Homo sapiens: one gene and its partners. The protein of the gene in region 3 interacts with the protein of the main gene of each other region in a pairwise test. Each region holds a gene or a part of one and is shown on either strand. Other genes may lie near its edges.

The links. Proteins that work in one complex are often made in the same cells at the same time.
Region 1: the proteins of SOD1 (region 3) and KLHL36 interact in binary tests that used the Homo sapiens proteins (3 or more experiments, as listed by UniProt).
Region 2: the proteins of SOD1 (region 3) and SP6 interact in binary tests that used the Homo sapiens proteins (3 or more experiments, as listed by UniProt).

What each region holds. Positions count from the first base shown.
Region 1 is NC_000016.10:84,657,555-84,665,510, reverse strand, and holds part of KLHL36 (kelch-like protein 36), read right to left. Parts: coding exon 7,567-7,956; intron 5,752-7,566; coding exon 5,594-5,751; intron 3,934-5,593; coding exon 3,378-3,933; 3' UTR 1-3,377.
Region 2 is NC_000017.11:47,844,408-47,849,119, forward strand, and holds the end of SP6 (transcription factor Sp6), read right to left. Parts: intron 4,080-4,712; 5' UTR 4,023-4,079; coding exon 2,892-4,022; 3' UTR 501-2,891; downstream 1-500. UniProt on the Homo sapiens protein: Promotes cell proliferation. Plays a role in tooth germ growth. Plays a role in the control of enamel mineralization. Binds the AMBN promoter.
Region 3 is NC_000021.9:31,654,467-31,663,735, forward strand, and holds the start of SOD1 (superoxide dismutase [Cu-Zn]), read left to right. Parts: upstream 1-5,226; 5' UTR 5,227-5,303; coding exon 5,304-5,375; exon of another isoform or gene 5,376-5,558; intron 5,559-9,269. UniProt on the Homo sapiens protein: Destroys radicals which are normally produced within the cells and which are toxic to biological systems.

The DNA.
Region 1 (7,956 bases), on a different chromosome or scaffold from region 3:
CAGTTGATAAAATAATCTCTGTGCATTTAAAACAGCAGGAAGTTTGCTATAAGTAACAAGGGTTCATCAGCTTTCTACTCCCTCCCTTCTATTATTATAATACATCTATGTCTTAAGCAAACAGCTTTCCAACTTGGGTGAGGACCAAACCCCAAACTTACAACTAATATGAAGTTACAACTCTAATTCTTTAGAAATGAGAGAAGTCCAAACCTCAATAGAAGCCTGCCATGCTTATTTTGAAATGTTAAAAAAAAAAAAAGATCCAGGTGTCTTCAAAATTCAAGCAGAATAGCTTGAAACACTGAAAGTTTAACATGATGACATGTGTGGCTGTTTCCCTCTCAAAATGGCAGCCTGCAAGCACCTGTGCCTTCATCACTCTAGTTTAAAACCCCACATTCGTGACTGTGCGGTTCAAATGGCCACTGCATAAGCACAGCCCAAACTCTGCCCATCTGAGTTAAAAAACATTTTATTCTTTTGAGACAGGGTCTCACTCCGTCACCCAGGTTAGAGTGCAGTGGTGTGGTCATAGCTCACTGCAGCCTCAACCTCCCAGGCTCAGGTGATTCTCCCACCTCAGCCTCCTAAGCAGCTGGGACTACTGCATGCCCCACCATCCCTGGCTAATCTTTTGTAATTTTTTTGTAGAGATGGGGTTTTGCCATGTTGCCCAGGCATGGTCTCTTCCATTTTCAGTTCCATTTTCATGCACAGTAGGGTGAATTTTCAACTTAAAAAGACAAGTAACAAAAACCTGGCCCGGGCACCACCACTGGGTGCCCTTGTGCCCATCCACTGACCCCAACAAGCTCAAAAACCTTTCTTGTCACAGTGTAGCCACCATCAAATATTAGAAGTTGACCCACAAGATGAAACTTGTTTATCCTCCCTTTAAAAGGGTGGTCCCAACCTTAGTAATATTAGGGTCAAAGCCATGTCAATTACAAACCACCTTCATAGTATCAGGAGAGACACCACAAAATATGAAGCGCAGGACGTCGTATGTAACTCATGAGGCACAAGAAAATCAGAATAGAGGCCAGAAGCTCACACATTTCCAGGGACAAGTCCCAGAAGCAAAACATAAAAGAGCTGGCTTAGGCTGAAAACCAATGGCTCTCCTCTCTCCAAGGTCAAAGCTATCCCACTCCCCAAATCACTCACAGAGTCTTTCTATGTGCTCTCCCCAACTTGCCCCGAGATTCAGGCCAAACAACTGCCCGTTTGTTCATGACCCAGGCTGAGATGGGGAGAACAGCCCACGTACACCCTACCCTGCCTTCTGAGGGGTCTACAAGCAATAAAACCTTTCCCGAATAGGAAGGGGGTAAGCTATCCCAAAGTTGGCAGAAGTTCTGCAAAACATGTTTTGTGGGGGTCTGGGACTAGGTATGAGACAAACGACTTTTAGGCTCAAAGAAGTTTGGAAATGCTGGGTTGAGACTTCTCGGAACCTTTCATACACCGGAATGCTGCAGAGCTCCAAGCAGAGTTTCCAGCCTTTTGGTCTGTTTGTTTGTATGCCTCGCAGAACCTCTCAACAGTTTGTAAGCCTCCAGGGACTTCACATGCAAATAACTAGCTAGCTGAACATGCAGACTGCCCTCCTCACTAACCACAGAGGGCAGTAAGTTGGCTATTGAAGCTTTCAGTCCCCAAAATGCTCTCATCTCTTCTGGATGGCTACATAAACAGACCAGTGAGAACCACAGTAAACCCTGAAGGGAAGGGAAAGGAGGGGCAGCAAAGAAGCAGAAGAAATGGAAATTAAAGTTAACTAAGATTTTTTTCCTAGTCTAATATCAATCTTAACACATTGATCCTCATCCACTCGAGCAGCTGAGAGCCCTCTTAAAGGGCAAGTGACATCGAGACCTGCTCTCGGAACTGTCTGCAGGAAGACTGGTGTTAGACTAGGATTGAAGATGAAGCACATCTTGAAGTTTACTGATCTCTGCCATCGGATGCTGGGTGAGGTACAGCTCATTCATGCCTTCCTTGGCTCATGCTTAAAACCCATCACACTCCTATCCTCCCATAGTTCTGCACGTTTCTCATCCACTCGGGCAGCTAAGAGCCCTCTTAAAGGGCAAGCGACCCTGACACCTGCTTTAGGAACTGTTTGCAGGAGTCAGTGCAGGCCAGCTCCACATCCTGAAGGGGATGCCATCCGGGTACGAACAGCTCAGAGGCTGAATGGCCCTATCACCCGGGAGGAGCCTGGAGGGTATTCCATCTAATCCTGTGGCTAAGCGGGGTGGATGAGGGAACACACGGACTTGTTCGAGAATTTGCCCAGCAGCACGAAACTACTTAGAAGCAGAAAACTGGGGCAGGACCTGGCGTGGGAGTTAGGGAGCCCTCCACTGCCTTCTCAGGGATCCACATGTGCTCCTCTGTGCAGGAACTTTCAACAGCGCCTCAAGATAGAGTCACAGAGAACGATGGCAAATTCCATAGCACTCACTTTTTCTTTCCTGAGAAATAAACAGATTTGGGAGCTCAGTACATCAGTAATATAAAAGACAGTGGGTTCAGAAAAAAAAAAAAGGAAAAAAATGCACAAATTACAAAAAAATATGTATAAAGAGCTTCATACCTTTTTTCGTTTTTGGTTACCTGTAACGTTTTAGAATTCAAGAAGGTTTCCAATGAGGAAAGACGGAATTATTCAGAAACAGCGTTCACCTGATACGGAGAACAGCTCCCCAGCGGGAAGTCATCATGTCTCATCTGACAGTCTAGCGAGCTGCGTGGCCCCTGGTCACTCACTCACTCACCCTCATGGGTGGTCTCTGTGCACTCATTTATAAAACAAACACACTGGACCTTGCCAGTGATTCCCAGATGTGACTAATACCCAGAATTCCAAGAACTAGTTAAAATACAGCTTCTGGGCACCACCTCCTCCCCGTTCCTGGTGGTTTTGGATTCCATAATTCTGAGCGGGGCTCACGCATCTGTATTCTTAAAAGTTCAGCCAGGTTTGGGGAGGCTTGGACTAGGTGGCCTAAGAGAACCCTTTGAGGCCCAAGCTTCACTACAGAAATTTCTGTGTTACCCACGTGCCAGCTACTCTCAGGGGGACAGTCAGCAAGGACCCATGAGGAATCATAACACGGGGCAAAGACCTGTGAAGATACAAGGGGTTGCTCACTGCCTGGGCCCAGGGTTAGTTATTCAAGCAAGATATGTAAAGTTACAGATAGTATTTAATTGGTTACTGTGATATCATAGAAATACCAAGAATCATAAAAGTAAAAAAAGCTGCTAAGTTGTACATAATGTTTCCGGAATACTAAGAAGTTGCTGCTGGTCTACAGAGCCCTGGGAGGTGACGGTGAGGATGGTCCCAAGAGGCGCAGCTAGGGTCACTGGCCCCGGTCCTGGTGCCTCTTGCCTTTGCCTTTCTTCTTCTTGTCCTCTGGCCGTGGCTCCAGGGCGCAGACACAGGCGGACCCGCCAGCGATGGCCTTGGGCAGGTCGACGCCCCTGCTCCACTTGTCGGCCTCGCGGTCGTACACCTGCACGGTCTTGGAGAAGGCAGTGTTCTCCCAGCTGTAGCCGCCCAGGATGTAGATGCGGCCCTCCCACACTGCCACGCCCGACTCGCTGTTGGCGTGCAGCAGCGGCGCCACGCGGGTCCACTGGTTGCACTGCGGGCTGTAGGCCTCCACGCCCAGCACGTCGAAGCGCTCCATGGACTCGATGTTGTCATCGCTGCCCCCGATGGAGTAGATGCTGTCACCCAGGCTGCACATGCTGTGCCAGCCGCGCGCCGTGGTCATGGGCCGCCGCTCCTCCCACACGTCTGTCCGGTGGTCGTAGCATAGCAGGTTCTTGCGGTAGGGGCCAATTTGGTAGTCGTGGCCCCCCGAGATGTACACGAAGTCTTTGTAGATGGTGCCCGCGTGGCCGTACGTGAACCTGCAGGGTCGACGGGCAGAGACAGAGGGAGAGCTCAGGGCTGTGCCAGGCTTACCCCCTCCGAGCCGGGGAACAGCCTGCCGTCTTAGAGGGCCATGAGGATTTAAGAATATAGGGAGTGGGCACCCCATGAACACTCTATAGACAGTAGCCGTCATTAGCAAAGAAATGGCAGGGCAGGGCGGGGAAGTGGACAGCTTTGCAGTCAGGCCGCCTGGGCCAGAACCCAGCTTCACTCTCTCTGAGTCTCCCTTGCCCCATCTGGGAAATGGGAATAATCACAGGACCATCACCCTTTTCACAATGGCTGGAAACGACTAGAACAATGAGCTAGCAGGCACACATGCACCCGATGAATCACACATCAAAGAGGAAATACGACATACAGTCCAATTCTAACTGTGCTGGCACTCGGGAAAAGTTTTGCCTAAAACCATAGAGACAGCAAAATCAGTGGCTGCCAGGACTGTGGGGAGAGGGGAGGGAGGGATGGACAGCACGCACACAGTGGGCTTTAGGGCAGTGAAATGATTCTGCGTGATGCTGTAATGGTGGATTCATGTTGCTTTGTGTTCCTCAAAACCCACACAACTGTGCCAGGAAGTGGGAACCCTGATGTAAACCAGGGCCTTTAGTGAATAAGAAAGGATCAATATGGCCAGGTGCAGTGGCTCATGCCTGTAATCCCAGCACTTTGTGAGGGTGAGGTGGGTGGATCTCTTGAGGCTAGGAGTTCAAGACCAGCCTGGCTAACATGATGAAATCCTGTCTCTACCAAAAATACAAAACTTAGCTGGGTGTGGTGGCAGGCGCCTGCAGTCCCAGCTACTCAGAAGGCTGAGGCAGGAGAACTGCTTGAGTTCAGGAGGCAGAGATTGCAGTGAGCCGAGATCGCGCCACTGCACTCCAGCCTGGGTGACAGAGAGAGACTCTCTCTCAGAAAAACAAAAATACGAGCGCTTACCCCACACACTTCTAACTCTTACGGACACCTGGATGTATTCCACAGCAAAGACTGGTTCAGAAAGTGCACTGCTGGGTGCGGCAACAGGGAACTGGTGGAAAAAATGGTGTGCACCTTCTGCTAATCCCATGGAGATAATAAATGCTCGATACATGCACATCGGAACGCAGGGGAGACTGAGGAGGGTGAGGCGGCCACCCTGGGGCACTCCCTGCATGTGGATGCAGGTTTCACAAGCAGCACTGCATCTGCTCTGCACAACAGTGCTGTGGGGTGGGTATCATTATCGTCTACCTCTACAGATGAGGAACTAAAGGCCGAGCGGGGTGAAGACCCATGCCTGAGGCTTAGATCTAGCACATATACCCCCATCTCTTTGAACTCCTCCTGCCCAAGCTCAGGGAGATCCTCAGGTCAGGCCTCACCCTCTGAAGCTCAGCAACTGCACACACTCAGCCATGGAGGGATGTCCGTCATGGCGGCAGAGCTGACCCTTGCCCTAAGTCTGAAACCGGAGCCCGGACTGTGCACCGTCACGCCCTCCGCCCCTCATGGTGTACCCACTCTTCCTGACAAGCCGGAAGATTTCATTCCTGGAATTGGAGGCCAACATGCCCAGAAAGTGAGGCACGTGGACTGAACTATGTCCCTTAAAAACATCCCATTTGGAGAACCTTCCACCAAGCCCCAGATCACCTTGGCAAGCCGGCCACATAGGACCAGGAGTCAGTCTTGGGACTGTACGTCTCTACTGAAGAGAGCGCTCCGTTCTCATTCCGGCCGCCGATGGCCACCAGCATGTCTTCGATGGAGGCAAGGTAGAAATCCACACGGCGCTGGTTCATGGAGGCCACCTGTGGAGTTGAGATACCTGTACCTTCCCTTCCCCGAACCCGGGACAGCATCAACATCTGGCGCTGCGGTTCCCAAATGTGTCTGCGGAATGCACAACCCCGGAGAATGTTTGGGAAAGGGAACTGCACCTGAATAAAGAGGGCTTCTTCAGGTGGGAGCTCTGAGCCCCCGAGGTTTCACCAAGATGCTCTGAATCCCCAAAAGTGGGATGGAGACGCTCTGAGTCCCCAAAAGGGGGATGGAGATGCTCTGAACCCCCGAACTTCTCTGGTCATGTCGTTAGCCGCGTGGATGGGAACTCTGTGGTCACAGGGGTCAGAATTGCTGATCTAGTGGCTTTATGAAATAAAAATTCATCTTTCCTCTCCCCACATCAGATTTGTAAAGTTAGTGCTGCTCTGCCACTCCGTGTTAACAGAGCAGGACGTGGCATTCGACAGGAAATTAAACAGAAGAGGCTGGGCGCGGTGGCTCACGCCTGTAATCCTGGCACTTTGGGAAGCCAAGGTGGGTGGATTACCTGAGGTCACGGAGTTCGAGACCAGCCTGGCCAACATGGTGAAACCCCGTCTCTACTGAAAATACAAAAATTAGCCGGGCGTGGTGGCAGGCGCCTGTAATTCCAGCTACTCAGTAGGTTGAGGCGCCAGAATTGTTTGAACCTGGGAGGCAGAGGTTGCAATTAGCCGAGATCGTGCCACTGCACTCCAGCTTGGGTGACAGAACAACTCTGTCTCACACACACACACACAAAAAGTAGAAGAGCCAACTTTTTTTTTTCTTTTTTTAAACGAATCCAAGGCAAACACACTGCTGCCACTGCTGCCAGGCTTCGGGAGGAGGCTCCAAAGCCAGGGACCCTTTCCAGTGGTGACACTTCGACCTTGGAGGGCAGTCTCAGATTTCTGAGAGTAAAATCAAAAGGTCAGCTGGAGTCCATTCTGACTGGGTTTTGAGCTGAGAACAGCACTGAGCTGGGCGCGACGCTGAGGTGTGAGTATAGAGGCTGAGATGGACTGTCCCGGGGACCGAGTGGCTGGAGAGCGCTCCCAGCAGAAAGGAGACACCTTCCCTACGCCAGGGGCTTGCCAGTCAACATGAGCTACTGCACTCCCTGTCCCCCACGTATTCCCAGAAGGGGAATCCAAAATGTGGAGAGGACAAGAATCTGAAATTTCCTAGCTATGACTTAGCCAGGCTGGGATGAGACCTCAGGTCTGACATCAAGGCCCACGCTCTTCCCAGAATCAGGACACAATACATGCCCAAGGGCCAGGCGTGAGCACTAGTGGTCTCCTTAAACTATCTCCCAAAATGCTTCCAGAGGAGCCCCACAGAGACTCCAGGACCTGGGGATGTTGAACCATGGATCAAACATCTAGACCCATGCTACTGTCCAATAGGGTAGCCACGCCTCGTGCGGCCACATACACTTACACGTCAATCGGTTAAAGTGAAATAAAATTGAAAATTGACTTCTTCAGTCGCACTGGCCACATTTCAAGTGCTCAGTCGCCACATGCGGCTGTGGCTACCGTATCGGGAAGTACAGACAGACCCTTCCATCTGCACAGAAAGCCCCGCCAGGCAGTGCTGCTCTGAACGATGACGGACCCCTCGAAGGGGTGGGTCGGCTCTCCCTCTCCCTGTCCAGGATGTAGGCCCCGGGGTATTCTGCTCGTCACTTTATCATCACACCTCATTCAGAAGCAGGATAGTTGTCAAGGCCCCAGAGAGGTAAGGAAAGTCAAGGCTAGGTTAAGGAAACCGAGAGAGTCCTCAAGAGAAAAGAAATAATCTGGCTTTAATCTCACCTTGATCCACTGTTTACAGCGGGGGTCATACCTATAAAGAAGATTGGAGGCCGCATCCCCTCCGTTGTCCCGTGAGAAGCTGCCGCCGGCGATGAAGATGAAGCCCCCCAGCACCGCGACACAGTGGTGGCTCCGCCGGGCGGGCAGCGGCGTCTCTTTGACCCACTGCTCGCTCTTGGCGTCCAGGTAGCAGGTGTCGTCACTGAGCTCCAGACACCGCTCGGAGACCTCGCCGCCCACAAACAGCAGGCGCTCCTGGTTGGTGCGCAGCGCCGTGCGCTTGGTCTGCATGACGGGCTGGGCCGCCAGGTTGTTGTGGTAGCGCACGGCCTCCTCGATGAAGCCCTCGCAGTTGGCCTCCTTGGGCAGCAGCGAGCACACGGCCGGCTT
Region 2 (4,712 bases), on a different chromosome or scaffold from region 3:
GGCAGGAGCCCATCAGATAGCTCGGCTGCCTTTCATCGCCTTGTCCCTGATAAGGATCATCCTGGGTGAAGTAATCACTGCCAATCACCCCCAGCTCAGTCACAGGCAGGGGATGGACTGACATGCACCCTCTATGGGGATGGAGTGAGGGAGCCAGTGCCTGGGAAAGAGGGAACCAGTGTTCTTAGCAGGGGAAGGGAAAGAAGGGGCTTGTATGTGGAAGAGGAAAGAGATATCTAGAAACTTCTCATAACCACAGGTATGAGACCAGGGAGGGACAGCCCGGGTACCAACCCAGAGGAAGAACCTCCCTCCTTCTGTACCAGCCACCTCTGGGGCAGGATCAGACCCCAGCTCCAACCCAACTCAATAGACATGAGGCTTTCCAAGGGGCTGCAGGATCACTGGGAAGCATCCACCCCACTCTGTGGCCCAGACCTGGTCCTCACTGCTGAGGGACACTGAGTCAAAAAGGAAACAGAGCTGGAACACAAAGGAAGCATGATGTAGTTGATGACTTTATTGCATAAAAAACACAGGCTGTTTCTCCCTCCTCCTACCCCCTCAAAGTGAGTTCACAGCAGTTAAAGAAAAAATAAATTCCTACATTTTTCCTCTAGGGGGACTGCCTAGAAAGACAGGCAGCCAAGCAGCCTAGATCTATAAAAGAGGGGAGCAGAAGAAAACCTATCCAAAGCCTCTACCCGCATACCTCAGAGCTTGGGGCTTCCATTGGGGGGAGCATCTGTGTCCACCAGCAACACCCATTTGGGAGTTCCCCTTAGGATGGCCACTGGAAAAGGCTGTCTTGGTGGCACAGGGAAGGGGTGGCTGGTTTCGATGGGTGGAGGAGAAAGGCATCTTACACCCACGGTGCCCTTCCTCTTTCCCCCTCTCCACCTGGCCAGGCAACCTGCAGGCACTGCCAAATCTCCTCCTGCCCCCAACCCTCTCAGCAAGGAAGGGGATCTCTGGTTGGGTTAGCAGGAGGTAGGGAAAAGAGAAAGAAAGAAAGAACATTACTTCTTAAACTACCCCAGGCCAATGAGTTCCTCGGGAAGGTCATCCTGTCCCTTTTAAGGAGGGCCCCTTTGTATACAAACACATATTCCCACCCAGATCCCAGCCCCCACTTCCCATATAGCTCCCAGACCTTGGCTGGGCTCCAGCATCTACAAAGGAGGAAGAGATGCTGGGCCCAGATCCCAGGATCTTGGACATGGTGAATAAGATGGGGTCTCCCTGGCTAGAGACCCCAGGCTCAGTAGAGAAACACACATACATGCACACAGGTACACACAACATGCACACACATAACCTAATATTAAATAAAATACCCTTTGCTTATAACTTAAAAATCAATACACAGCTAATCTCTGCAGAGGGCTCCGGGTGAAGAAAGGGAGCGAGGGGAAGGGGGAGGGGTGTCAGAGGGACTGTAAGGCCCCTCTCTTGAGTGTGGGAAAGCCCTCCGGCTGCAAGGGCTGTGGCCTGTCAGACCCTTCCTCATATCAGCTTCTTTCCCCTCTGCCTGGCTCAGCTTCTGCTGGGCTTCTCCCCTCCCTCCTTTCCTCTCTCCCCCACCCCATGATCAGAATCAAAATGTGTTTCTAGCATCTAAAGGAGAAGGGAATGGGGACAGCTTCCTGGATGTCACCTCAGAAGGCAGAACCCCTTCCAGTGGGAGAACAACTCTTTCCTCTCCCTTCCCCTGTGAGATGAGGGGGAGGAAGGAATCCCCTAATGAACATGCTATGGCAGGGGCAAGGGAAAGACAAGGGCCAAGCTAGAGAGACAGTGGGGTTTATTTTCTTGGTGACAGCTAAAGAGATGGTCAGGTAGGCTGCAGGCCTCCACTCTGAGTGGGAACCAGTGGAGGTCCCTCTGATGAGACACCCCCAATCTGCCCTCAACCAGCCCAAGAAACCCTCTTCCTTCCATCCCTGAGGGGAAGGCAACTGGTGGGAACTACATGGATTCTACCGCTGGCTGCCTTGAAAACACACCTAGGGTAATAGATGGGGAATGTGAGACTACTGAACTTTATTTATCATAGACCAAGAATTAAGGGCTGAATCAGAGGTGGAGAGGGAAGGGGTTAGTTCCTTCCATACCCCACCAAATCCCTATCTCTCATTTTAGAAGAGGACTTCCCTACTCGCCCCCTCCATCTATCTCGGTCCTTTATCGCCAGCCCTGGCTGGGAGGCTGTCAGGAATGGCAGCCCTCTTTCCCTCTTCCTTCATGGCTCCAACAGACTGGGTCTGAAAGGGTTAATAAGGAAGCTCATCAAAGGAGTTATTTTTACAGCAACAACCCTCCAAACCAGAAAGAGACACCCCTGCCAAGGGGGACCCCCAGGCTCCCCCATCCCATCTCGGCTCTCCCTCCGGAAACCCTAGGGGCAGAAGCACTTTAAGTGGGATGAAAGGGACCCCGCCGCAGGGCGGCTCCGGAGGCGCTTTTATGTCCTGGTTCCCAGGCGCTAAGGACGTGTCCAGACAGCCACCACCAGCGCCCCGGGCCGGCCCCACTTCTCTCTGCTCCGGGGACTGGGACTTGCTGTCTCCTCTAGCCTGTCCCCGCCAGCCAGCCGCGGTACGGGTGTCCCACCCCAACCCCCCAGCCCAGGGGCGAGGGAAACTGTGAGGCAGGGGAGAACAGAGGGGCATTGCGCAGCTCCTACCGACCCAGTCAAATTCATCCTGCCTAGTAGCCCCAGAGACTAAGAACCCCTAGCGCCCCATCTCCCTGTCCCTGCACCACTTTTCCTCCTCCCTGAATAAATACGCACCTTCCCCTCTTCCTCAAGCCACCCCCAAGGACGTCAGACCTGGGGGCTCGCATCCAGTGCCCCCCGGGATACCCGCAGGGAGGCGGCACTGAGGAGCTCAGTTGGAGGGAGCCACGCTGCCCTCGGCCTCGCGTTTGCCTTTGCCCCCGGGGGGCTCCACTGCGCCGCCGGCCTTGCCCTCTCCCGAGGCCGCCCCAGCCGCCTCCTCCTTGGCGCCCTCGTGGGTTTTCATGTGCTTGGCCAGGTGGTCGCTGCGCATGAAGACGCGGCTGCAGACTGCACAGGGGAACTTCTTGGTGCCGGTGTGGGTCTGGAGGTGGCGCTGCAGCTCGTCCGAGCGCGTGAAGCGCTTGCCGCAGAAGAGCCAGTTGCACACGAAGGGACGGTCGCCGCTGTGCCAGCGCAGGTGCGCCTTCAGGTGCGACGTCTTGGCGTAGGCTTTCCCGCAGCCCGGGATGTGGCAGTTGTGCAAATGCTTCTTCTTGCCCCCATCGGGCCCACATGGAGCCCCCAGTCGCTCCGCCTCCAGACAGTTGGGGCAGCGACAGACGGTCTGGCCTGAGCTGCGGGGCACCGACCGCCGGGAGCCTTTGGGACGCGCCGCCCCGTCCAGGCTGGAATCCAGCCCTTGAGACTCCGGGGCGGCTACTTCCAAGGCCTTAGCCCCGTCGGGCGGCCCTAGGAGATGCTGCCCTCCGGCAGCTGGAAGGAGGTGGTGCGCATGCGGGTGGGGTGGCGGGGCACAAAGCTGGTGGTCTCCGACGTAGCCCCCCAAGCCCGCCTGAAGCGCCCCCGGGTGGCCAGGTGAGGTCAGCGCGCCCTGAGTGTGGGGGAGGTCCATCCAGCTGGTGCCCGGATGAAGGTCCCACCACGAGCCATCCTCCGCGCCTGGGTGAGTCGGCCTGAACCACGATTCATAATGGTGTGACATGTCCGGCTGCAGGAGCTTGGAAAAGGGGCCCGGGGCCAAGGGACTGTCGCTTTCCAGGTCCTCGCAGGTTACCCGCGAGGAGGCCCCTGGCAGCTCATAGCCCTGCGAGAAGTCCACCTCCGGGCCCAGCGGGAGGCTCTGCAGCTCTCCAGGCTGCAGCGGGGAGGGGTAGTCCCCGGCCTCAGGGCTCGTGTGGCCCTGGTAAGTTTGGAGAGGCTGCAGGTCGAGGCGCGGCGGGGAGGCGTGCGGCGCTTCCGTGTGCTGGCTGCCCAGAGAGCCGCAGACAGCGGTTAGCATTGCCGGGATCCGGGGTGGGGTGAGGGCAGGGACGGTCAGGGGCACCTCAGACGGGACCTAAAGGAGGCGAAGAAGCAGAAAAGTAAGGGAAATAACCAGCTCACTTTCCCTCCTAACCCAGGTCCTCCTCTCTGGCCCCAGGTGTAAAAGAAGGATGCACCTCTGAACGAGGACTAGAGATGAGTTTAGAGAATTCGGGAGTGCGAGGAAGGGTCCAAGATGTGAGGTTCTCATCCAAGCACAGAGGATGATGGAGGTCTACCTTCCTCTGGGTGATCCCTGCCGTATGACCCAGCTCATCCCTAGAGTTGGGCCACTCCCAGGATGGTAGGTCAGATACACCTACAGCACAGTGCTAGAACCATCCCCACCCCAGCTGCCCAGGCCAACACAAGGGGCAGTGGCATTTTCCCCCTGCAGACCTGCTGTCAGCCCAAATGGAGGATCTAGACACATCTCAGCTTCCCCAGTTTAACTCAGGATACAGATGGGAGAGGGGATGGTCTATTTCTGAAACCCAAAGCTTCAGGTGACCTGCCCCTCATAAAGCCTCAAACGGGTCCTGAGTCTTTGAAAGAGTTCTCATGCCATTCCCAAAGCATGTTCAGTAATGAAAAGCATTTCACCGTCTACGCTGCTCCCCGCCTGGCCTGGTCACATCGGGCCCACTAAACCGACTCACATGCCCCC
Region 3 (9,269 bases):
CCCCTCTCTGTGGGCTGCTGTGCTGCCGGAGCCTCCCCGACAAGCACCGCCCCCTGCTCTACGGCGCCCAGTCCCATCGACGACCCAAGGGCTGAGGAGTGCGGGTGCACGGCATGGGAGTGGCAGGCAGCTCCACCTGCAGCCCAGGTGCGGGATCCACTGGGTGACGCCAGCTGGGCTCCTGAGTTTAGTGGGGACCTGCAGAACCTTTATGTCTAGCTAAGGGATTGTAAATGCACCAATCGGCACCCTGTGTCTAGCTCAGGGTTTGTGAATGCACGAATCGACACTCTGTATCTAGCTACTCTGGTGGGGAGGTGGAGAACCTTTGTGTCTAGCTCAGGGATTGTAAACACACCAATCAGCGCCCTGTCAAAACAGACCACTCGGCTCTACCAATCAGCAGGATGTGGGTGGGGCCAGATAAAAGAATAAAAGCAGGCTGCCTGAGCCAGCAGTGGCAAGCTGCTTGGGTCCCCTTCCATACTGTGGAAGCTTTGTCTTTCTTTGCAATAAATCTTGCTGCTGCTCACTCTTTGGGTCCACACTGCCTTTATGAGCTGTAACACTCACCACGAAGGTCTGCAGCTTCACTGCTGAAGCCAATGAGACCACGAACCCCCCGGGAGGAATGAACAACTTGAGACGCGCTGCCTTAAGAGCTGTAACACTCACCGCGAAGGTCTGCAGCTTCACTCCTGAGCCAGCGAGACCACAAACCCACCAGAAGGAAGAAACTCCGAACACATCTGAACATCAGAAGGAACAAACTCCGGACACGCCACCTTTAAGAACTGTAACACTCACCGCGAGGGTCCACGGCTTCATTCTTGAAGTCAGTGAGACCAAGAACCCACCAATTCCGGACACACCAGCTACTAGGGAGGCTGAGGTGAGGGGATCACCTGAATCCAGGAAGTCGAGGGTGCAGTGAGCCGAGATCATGCCGTTACACTCCAGCCTGAGTGACAGAGTGAGATCTTGTGTCAAAAAAACAGAACAAAATAAAACAAGAACGTTGAATAGGCTGTGTGTTAATTCTGAGATGGAGTCCAGACTTAAGAATGATCCTGAGGCTTAGACCCATATCCAAGAGGATGATTCCAGCCTGGCACTTATAGGTTCTTCAGGCACTTCAGATGCACCCTGTCCTGAATTAAGCCCTTTGTCCTTGAACCTGCTTTCCTTGGTAAACAGCACCAAGGGGGCTAGAAACCTGGGGGCTGCCCTTACCTTCCCTCTCTCACCATGCACCTCTAATGGGTGGCTGGACTTGTGGTTGCATTTCCGTGATCTCCCAGCTTTCTTCCAGTGATGGCCTTAGGTGGGCTCTTATCCTGTCTCCCAAATGGCCTCTCTGCCTTGAGTCTCACCCCATCTGCTCTCAGTCCACCCACTGAGCTATTCCAGAGACCATTCTGACTCCCTGTGGACACCCCTCTGGTGGCTTCTCCTCTCTGTCAGTTAGAAATTGCTTTTGACTGCATGTAACAAATGTGGTTACGCTATTTAACCAAATAAAGGTTTATTTTTCTCGTGATGAAAAGTACACAGATAAGCAGCCTACTTCCATCGATAACCATTGAGGGTTTCTTATGACTCTTACAGCAATGAAATGTGTATTTACAGTATAAAGATATACAATTTTAAGGTTTTAATATAATTGGGCCTAAGCACAGTATTTTTTGTTTTAGTTTTCAACTGCCCAGGTGATTCTATTGTGCAGCCAGGGTTGATAAACACTGCATCTAGGCCCAGTGCCTTTGATTTGCAGCTGAGGTCTAGAGAGAATTATTGAAACTGCAGTCCCAGCTACTTGGGAGGCTGAGGTTGGAGAATTGCCTAAGCCCAGCGGGGTGAGGCTGTAGTGAGTCAAGACTGCACCACCGCACTCCAGCCCGGGCGACAGAGCAACACTCCATCTAAAAAAAAAAAAATTTCTGGTCTACCTTTTTGCCCACCTTTTAACCACAGAGGTCCCCAAACATGAATTTTCACTCTCAGGAAGGCTGAAATGACACATTACAAGCGGTTTAGTCATCTGCACGTGCCGCCATCTGATTTAAGGCATCTATTCCTCCTCACCATTCCTGACAAAGTTGAACTGTCTACATGTGCCACATTCTCCTCTTTCTCTAATTCCTTCCCTCCTTCCCTCCTCCCTTTCTTCCCTCCCTCCCTCCTTCCTTCTTCTTTCTCTTTCTTTTTCTTTCTCTCTTTCTCTTTCTTTCTCTTTCTCTCTCACTCTCTTTTCTTCTTTCTGACAGGGTTTGCCTGTTCTGCTTCTTTAAACCCTGGGGTTCAAGTGCAAAGGTCCCTCTCATCTGATTTCCCTATTTTATTTTATTTAAGTTAGATACTCCACGATGATGATGATGATTATTGTTGAGACAGGATTTCATTCTGTTGCCCAGGCTGGAGTGCAATGGTGCGATCACAACTCACTGCAGCCTCAACCTCCTGGGCCCACGCGATCCTCCTACCTCAGCCTCCCAAGTAGCTTGGACTACAGGGGTGTACCACCATGCCCGGCTAATTACATGTGCCAGATTCAACCCACGTTCCAGGGTTCCAAACAACCAAGGCTCTATCATCCTGTCTTAACAAATATACCTTCATAAAGACCTGGAAGGCAGGTTGAAATGTGGAATTCTTGGACTTCTTTCAGTTCTACGTAGAAGGGTAGCAGTGGAGAGCTGGCTGCCTGCCCGCCCCTGGCCTTTCCTCCTTTCCCCACCCCTGCTCCTTGTGGCACTGGGCAGGGCCTACGTTCAAGGCTAGCAGTGTACTCAACAAGGGACAGTCCCTGTGTGGCCTGTTCAGGATCCTATACACAGGCTCAGGGCTCTTTGGGCAGGAAATTCCAGGATCCGGGTACTCAAGTGGTGTTCTAAACAGTGGTTCTTGGCCGGGTGTGGTGGCTCACACCTGTAATCCCAGCACTTTGGGAGGCCGAGGCTGGCAGATCACTTGAGGTCAGGAGTTCGAGACCAGCCTGGCCAACATGGTGAAACCCCATCTCTACTAAAAATACAAAAACTTAGCCAGGCATGGTGTGCACGCCTGTAGTCCCAGCTACTCGGGAGGCTGAGGCAGGAGAATCACTTGAACCCAGCAGGCGGAGGTTGCAGTGAGCTGAGATTGCACCACTGCACTCCAGCCTGGTGACAGAGTGAGACTCCATATCAAAATAAATACATAAATAAATAAAAACAGTGATTCTTAACTGGGAGTGATTTGGCAACGTCTGGAATTATTTTTGGTTATCCCAGCCTGGCAGGGAGGGACAGGGTATTACTGGCATCTAGTGAGTAGGGGCTAGGGATTCTACTGAACATCCTACAGTGTACAGGACAGCCTCCACAGCAAAGAACTGTCTGGCCCAAAATGTCCATAGTGCCCACATTCGATGCCCTGCATTAGGAAGATATAAATACTCTTAAATATCACAGAGTTAAATTCCTTACCCCTGTTCTAGCAGAGATGATATTCTTGCGGGGGGAGCATCTTCTTGGCTTCAACACATTCTTTTCTCCATGGGAGATGATGCCAGAAGAGGGACAGAACAGGGCCCAGTAAAGCATGGGGCCTGGGGCCAGGGACCCCCTTGTTCAGGTGTGACGACCATCCTACGAAGGCACCACCCAGGCATCATTAGACCGTCTCAAAAGAAGAGTAATTCACTGTCCCAAAGCAGCTCTCTCGTGTCTGTGGGCGGATCCCTTGGCAAGTTTACAATGAACTGAAATCTGCCGAACTTCCTGGAACCCAAAGAAACTTTAGCCTTGGGCAAAGGCCCTTTGGCCAGCATTTGCACTGTTTATGCAACCGTTTAGAATATACGAATTATCTGGAGACTACTACCAAATACAACAGGCAAAACTGCAAATATGTATACTTCCTAGAGGATGATAAAAAAATGTGAATTGTATTTCTCTGATAGAGGATGCATTAGAGTCTGAGGGTCTAAATAGCGTAAATAATAAATAAGTAAATAAATCGATAGTAGTGTACTCCAAACGAGGCTGGAATAGCTTCTATTGTTGTTTCACACTGGACTTCAATTAAGTCTCAGTATTTTGCCATACTCAATATTAAGTACTAGGCTGGACGTGGTGGCTCATGTCTGTAATCCCAGCACTTTGGGAGGCCGAGGTGGGTAGATGGCTGGCTTGAGCTCAGGAGTTTGAAACCAGCCTGGGCAACATGGTAAAACCCCATCTGTACCCAAAATACAAAAATCAGCCAGGTGTGGTGGCACATGCCTGTGGTCCCAGGTACTTGGGAGGCTGAGGCAGGAGGATGGCTTGAACCCAGGAGGTGGAGGCTGCAGTGAGCTATGATGGCGCCACTGCACTCCAGCCTGGGTGACAGAGCGAGACCCTGTCTCAAAAATCAAACAAACAACCCCCTCGCCCCGGACAAAAGTAGTTTGCACTATTTTCTCATTTCACAATATGTTTTTGAAATATTTCCCTTGAAAGGTAAGTCATATTTATCATTCCTGTTGTATGGAGGCATCATAAATTATTTCACCATTCTACCCTCCTTGAGTGTTGTGGCCTTTAGGCCAGACAAAAACGCAGGTGATGCCTAGAAGCCAACTAGTTGCCGTTTGGTTATCTGTAGGGTTGTGGCCTTGCCAAACAGGAAAAATATAAAAAGAATACCGAATTCTGCCAACCAAATAAGAAACTCTATACTAAGGACTAAGAAAATTGCAGGGGAAGAAAAGGTAAGTCCCGGGATTGAGGTGTAGCGACTTTCTATACCCTCAGAAAACTAAAAAACAAGACAAAAAAATGAAAACTACAAAAGCATCCATCTTGGGGCGTCCCAATTGCTGAGTAACAAATGAGACGCTGTGGCCAAACTCAGTCATAACTAATGACATTTCTAGACAAAGTGACTTCAGATTTTCAAAGCGTACCCTGTTTACATCATTTTGCCAATTTCGCGTACTGCAACCGGCGGGCCACGCCCCCGTGAAAAGAAGGTTGTTTTCTCCACATTTCGGGGTTCTGGACGTTTCCCGGCTGCGGGGCGGGGGGAGTCTCCGGCGCACGCGGCCCCTTGGCCCCGCCCCCAGTCATTCCCGGCCACTCGCGACCCGAGGCTGCCGCAGGGGGCGGGCTGAGCGCGTGCGAGGCGATTGGTTTGGGGCCAGAGTGGGCGAGGCGCGGAGGTCTGGCCTATAAAGTAGTCGCGGAGACGGGGTGCTGGTTTGCGTCGTAGTCTCCTGCAGCGTCTGGGGTTTCCGTTGCAGTCCTCGGAACCAGGACCTCGGCGTGGCCTAGCGAGTTATGGCGACGAAGGCCGTGTGCGTGCTGAAGGGCGACGGCCCAGTGCAGGGCATCATCAATTTCGAGCAGAAGGCAAGGGCTGGGACGGAGGCTTGTTTGCGAGGCCGCTCCCACCCGCTCGTCCCCCCGCGCACCTTTGCTAGGAGCGGGTCGCCCGCCAGGCCTCGGGGCCGCCCTGGTCCAGCGCCCGGTCCCGGCCCGTGCCGCCCGGTCGGTGCCTTCGCCCCCAGCGGTGCGGTGCCCAAGTGCTGAGTCACCGGGCGGGCCCGGGCGCGGGGCGTGGGACCGAGGCCGCCGCGGGGCTGGGCCTGCGCGTGGCGGGAGCGCGGGGAGGGATTGCCGCGGGCCGGGGAGGGGCGGGGGCGGGCGTGCTGCCCTCTGTGGTCCTTGGGCCGCCGCCGCGGGTCTGTCGTGGTGCCTGGAGCGGCTGTGCTCGTCCCTTGCTTGGCCGTGTTCTCGTTCCTGAGGGTCCCGCGGACACCGAGTGGCGCAGTGCCAGGCCCAGCCCGGGGATGGCGACTGCGCCTGGGCCCGCCTGGTGTCTTCGCATCCCTCTCCGCTTTCCGGCTTCAGCGCTCTAGGTCAGGGAGTCTTCGCTTTTGTACAGCTCTAAGGCTAGGAATGGTTTTTATATTTTTAAAAGGCTTTGGAAAACAAAAATACGCAACAGAGACCGTTTGTGTGACACTTTGCAGGGAAGTTTGCTGGCCTCTGTTCTAGGTCATGATTGGGCTGCAAGGGCAGAGAAGGTAGCCTTGAACAGAGGTCCTTTTCCTCCTCCTAAGCTCCGGGAGCCAGAGGTTTAACTGACCCTTTTGGGGATTTTTGAGGGCAGTGATCTTAACTTTGGGTGCACAGTTAGCTTATTTGAAGATCTTACTAAAAATACACCAGAGCCCAACCTCCGACCAATTACATCAAAACCTGTCCTAGTGCAGGGTGAGTATTGCTGTTTTTTGAAAGTTTCCAAAAGTGATTTTGATGTGCACCTACGATTGAGAACTGTCGTTTGAGGACAGTGGGTGGAGTTTCGTATTTGGAAATTAGAAGACCTGGAGTTTCCATTACACCGAATTGGCACTTAATAACTGTTGTCGGAGCATTTCTTAAGCCACATTTTCGTAAAGTGGCTTTAAAATTGCTCTGCCAGTAGGCAGGTTGCTAAGATGGTCAGAGACAAACTTCTGAACGACTCTTGTAAAATATACAGAAATATTTTCAGAACTTTTATCAGTAAAATTACAAAACGTGTTGCAAGGAAGGTGCTTGTGATAACACTGTCCCCAGAACCTTAGTGAAGTTACCAACTGGTGGAAAATTTTCTCTTGCACTCGGCTTAAAAATCATGAGGGAATATTTACTATACGAATGAGATTCAGTCTTTAAAGGGGTTTACAGAAACGTGAGAGGACAGGAACAGTTAGTCTGTGTAAATGTCTGAAATATATGTGAGGGAGATAATGAGTTTAGCCTTTTTCTTTAATAGGTCTCCAGATTTTCTGGAAAAGGTTCTTTGGCATTTGACTCCATTTTGCTGTTTCATTTGTCAGACTTCTTTTTGTCCCTCTTTACTTCTCCCCACATAATTCACCAGTACTAGTGTTTTGTTTTTCAGACCAAGTCTCGCTCTGTCGCCCAGGCTGGAGTGCAGTGGCGCGATCTCAGCTCACTGCAACCTCCGCCTCCCAGGTTCAAGCAATTCTCCTGCCTCAGCCTCCCGGGTAGCTGGGACTACAGGCGCGCGCCGCCACGCCTGGCTAATTTTTTATATTTTAGTAGAGACGGCGTTTCACCATGTTGGCCAGGATGGTCTCGATCTGTTGACGTCGTGATCCACCCGCCTCGGCCTCCCAAAGTGCTGGGATTACAGGCGTGAGCCACCCCGCCCGGCCACCAGTGCTATTCTTAAGACGCCTCTGAGGAATCCCTTCTCCCTGGCCATTGAGAATCCATGCATGAACCCAGGTTTTCCACCTTCCCTGAGCAGCTTGCATAGTTCCTTCTTTTAAGCGCCTGACTTCGTTTTGTTTGGTGCCCGTTGTACCTGAGAATGAGCCTTGGATAGTGGAGCATTCCAGCTTTCCAGATATGCAGAGATAATACATTGGCTATCAGCTACTTGGCTTGGCCTATTCCGTGTTTAAAATCTTGGACTCTTTGCTAGTTTTTACAGATCAGAATTTTTCACGTATTAATCCAGTTTTCCTAGCTTCTCTTGAAGAATTTTTGGAGATCTCTTCATACTGAGCCTTCATTAGCCCAGGACAGTACTGCTGTAGCAGTTCATATATTTTTTCGCTTCCCAGGCCTGTGTTATTCACTTAAGTTCATAGCCTGGTCCCTGCAGGGTTGTACCCGAGCACAGCTACTTAGATGTCCTGAATGTATTACCGGTTAAATGGAGGTTTCAAAGAACCTGCTGTTTTTGGCCCTGTGCTCTTGATAACAGAGTGTTTGAGGGACAACTTTCACATTTGAGTTTTTCCAAAATTAAAGGTTGTAGAAGAGTCACAGTATCTATTGTCAAAAAGAAAAGAATTTAAAAAGGCAGCAATTGCCAGGATACTTCATTTGAGCAATGATATTTTCCAGTGGAAAGTCACATCTTAAGGGTTAATGCCCCTTAACTGTTGGCCGTATTTGAAAACAAACCAAGCTAAAAACAAGAGACACTGACATGTTGTATGACGGTGTGGTGTGGATGTTGTGTTTATTTTAGTCCTGAGATCTAGTTGTAACTTCCTTGATTTCTGTATGTAGCCACGGAGCACCATTACCTGTCACCATTACCTGAATGGCTATACTGCTTGCTTTCATTTTGGTAGAGTGGAAAGGTTACCTAGGTTTCAGTGCTTGAAAAGATTTCAGAAAGCAGTAGTACGTCTGGTTAGACTAGAATCAGTCCTCTCCTGGGGGCAGTGGAATATAATATTTTCTGACTGCTAATTAAAAATACCTGTGATAGCCGGGCGTGGTGGCTTACGCCTGTAATCCCAGCACTTTGGGAGGCCGAGACGGGTGGATCACGAGGTCAGCAGATGGAGACCATCCTGGCTAACACGGTGAAACCCCGTCTCTACTAAAAATGCAAAAAAATTAGCCGGGTGTGGTGGTGGGCGCCTGTAGTCCCAGCTACTCAGGAGGCTGAGGCAGGAGAATGGCATGAACCTGGGAGGCGGAGCTTGCAGTGAGCCGAGATCATGTCACTGCACTCCAGCCTGGGCGACAGAGCGAGACTCGTCTCAAAAAAAAAAAGAAAAAAACTTATGATGGACACTTAAAAACACTCACTGAGTGGGGAGTGGAGAGCAGGGGTCCCAGGGTAGCCTGTTGGACATTTCCAGGGCGACTTTTTCTTTTTTTTTTTTTAAAGTCAAGTGAGTATGCCATATGGAAAAGGGTGTGCGTGGAGAAAAAGCAAGGGGCTCCAGAGTGTAGGATGAGACATACACCTTTTGGGTTAAAAAGGCTGAGGCAGGAGAATGGCGTGAACCCGGGAGGCGGAGCTTGCAGTGAGCTGAGATCATGCCACTGCACTCCAGCCTGGGCGACAGAGCGAGACTCTTGTCTCAAAATAAAAAACGTTTACATGTACATGTATATTCAACATGTACAAATATAACCTATTCAAAAGTATTTACTACATAAATAGGTACTTACATTACCTATTTACTGTAATAGTCAAAGCCTATGAAGTATCTAACACTGATGTGTAGGTACTCACTTTGCTTGCCACTCTATTAGGTGCTTTTTATGTTATTTAATCATGAAGCCTGGCCACAGGGTGCTTGTGCATTGAGTGTGGGAACAAGATTACCATCTCCCTTTTGAGGACACAGGCCTAGAGCAGTTAAGCAGCTTGCTGGAGGTTCACTGGCTAGAAAGTGGTCAGCCTGGGATTTGGACACAGATTTTTCCACTCCCAAGTCTGGCTGCTTTTTACTTCACTGTGAGGGGTAAAGGTAA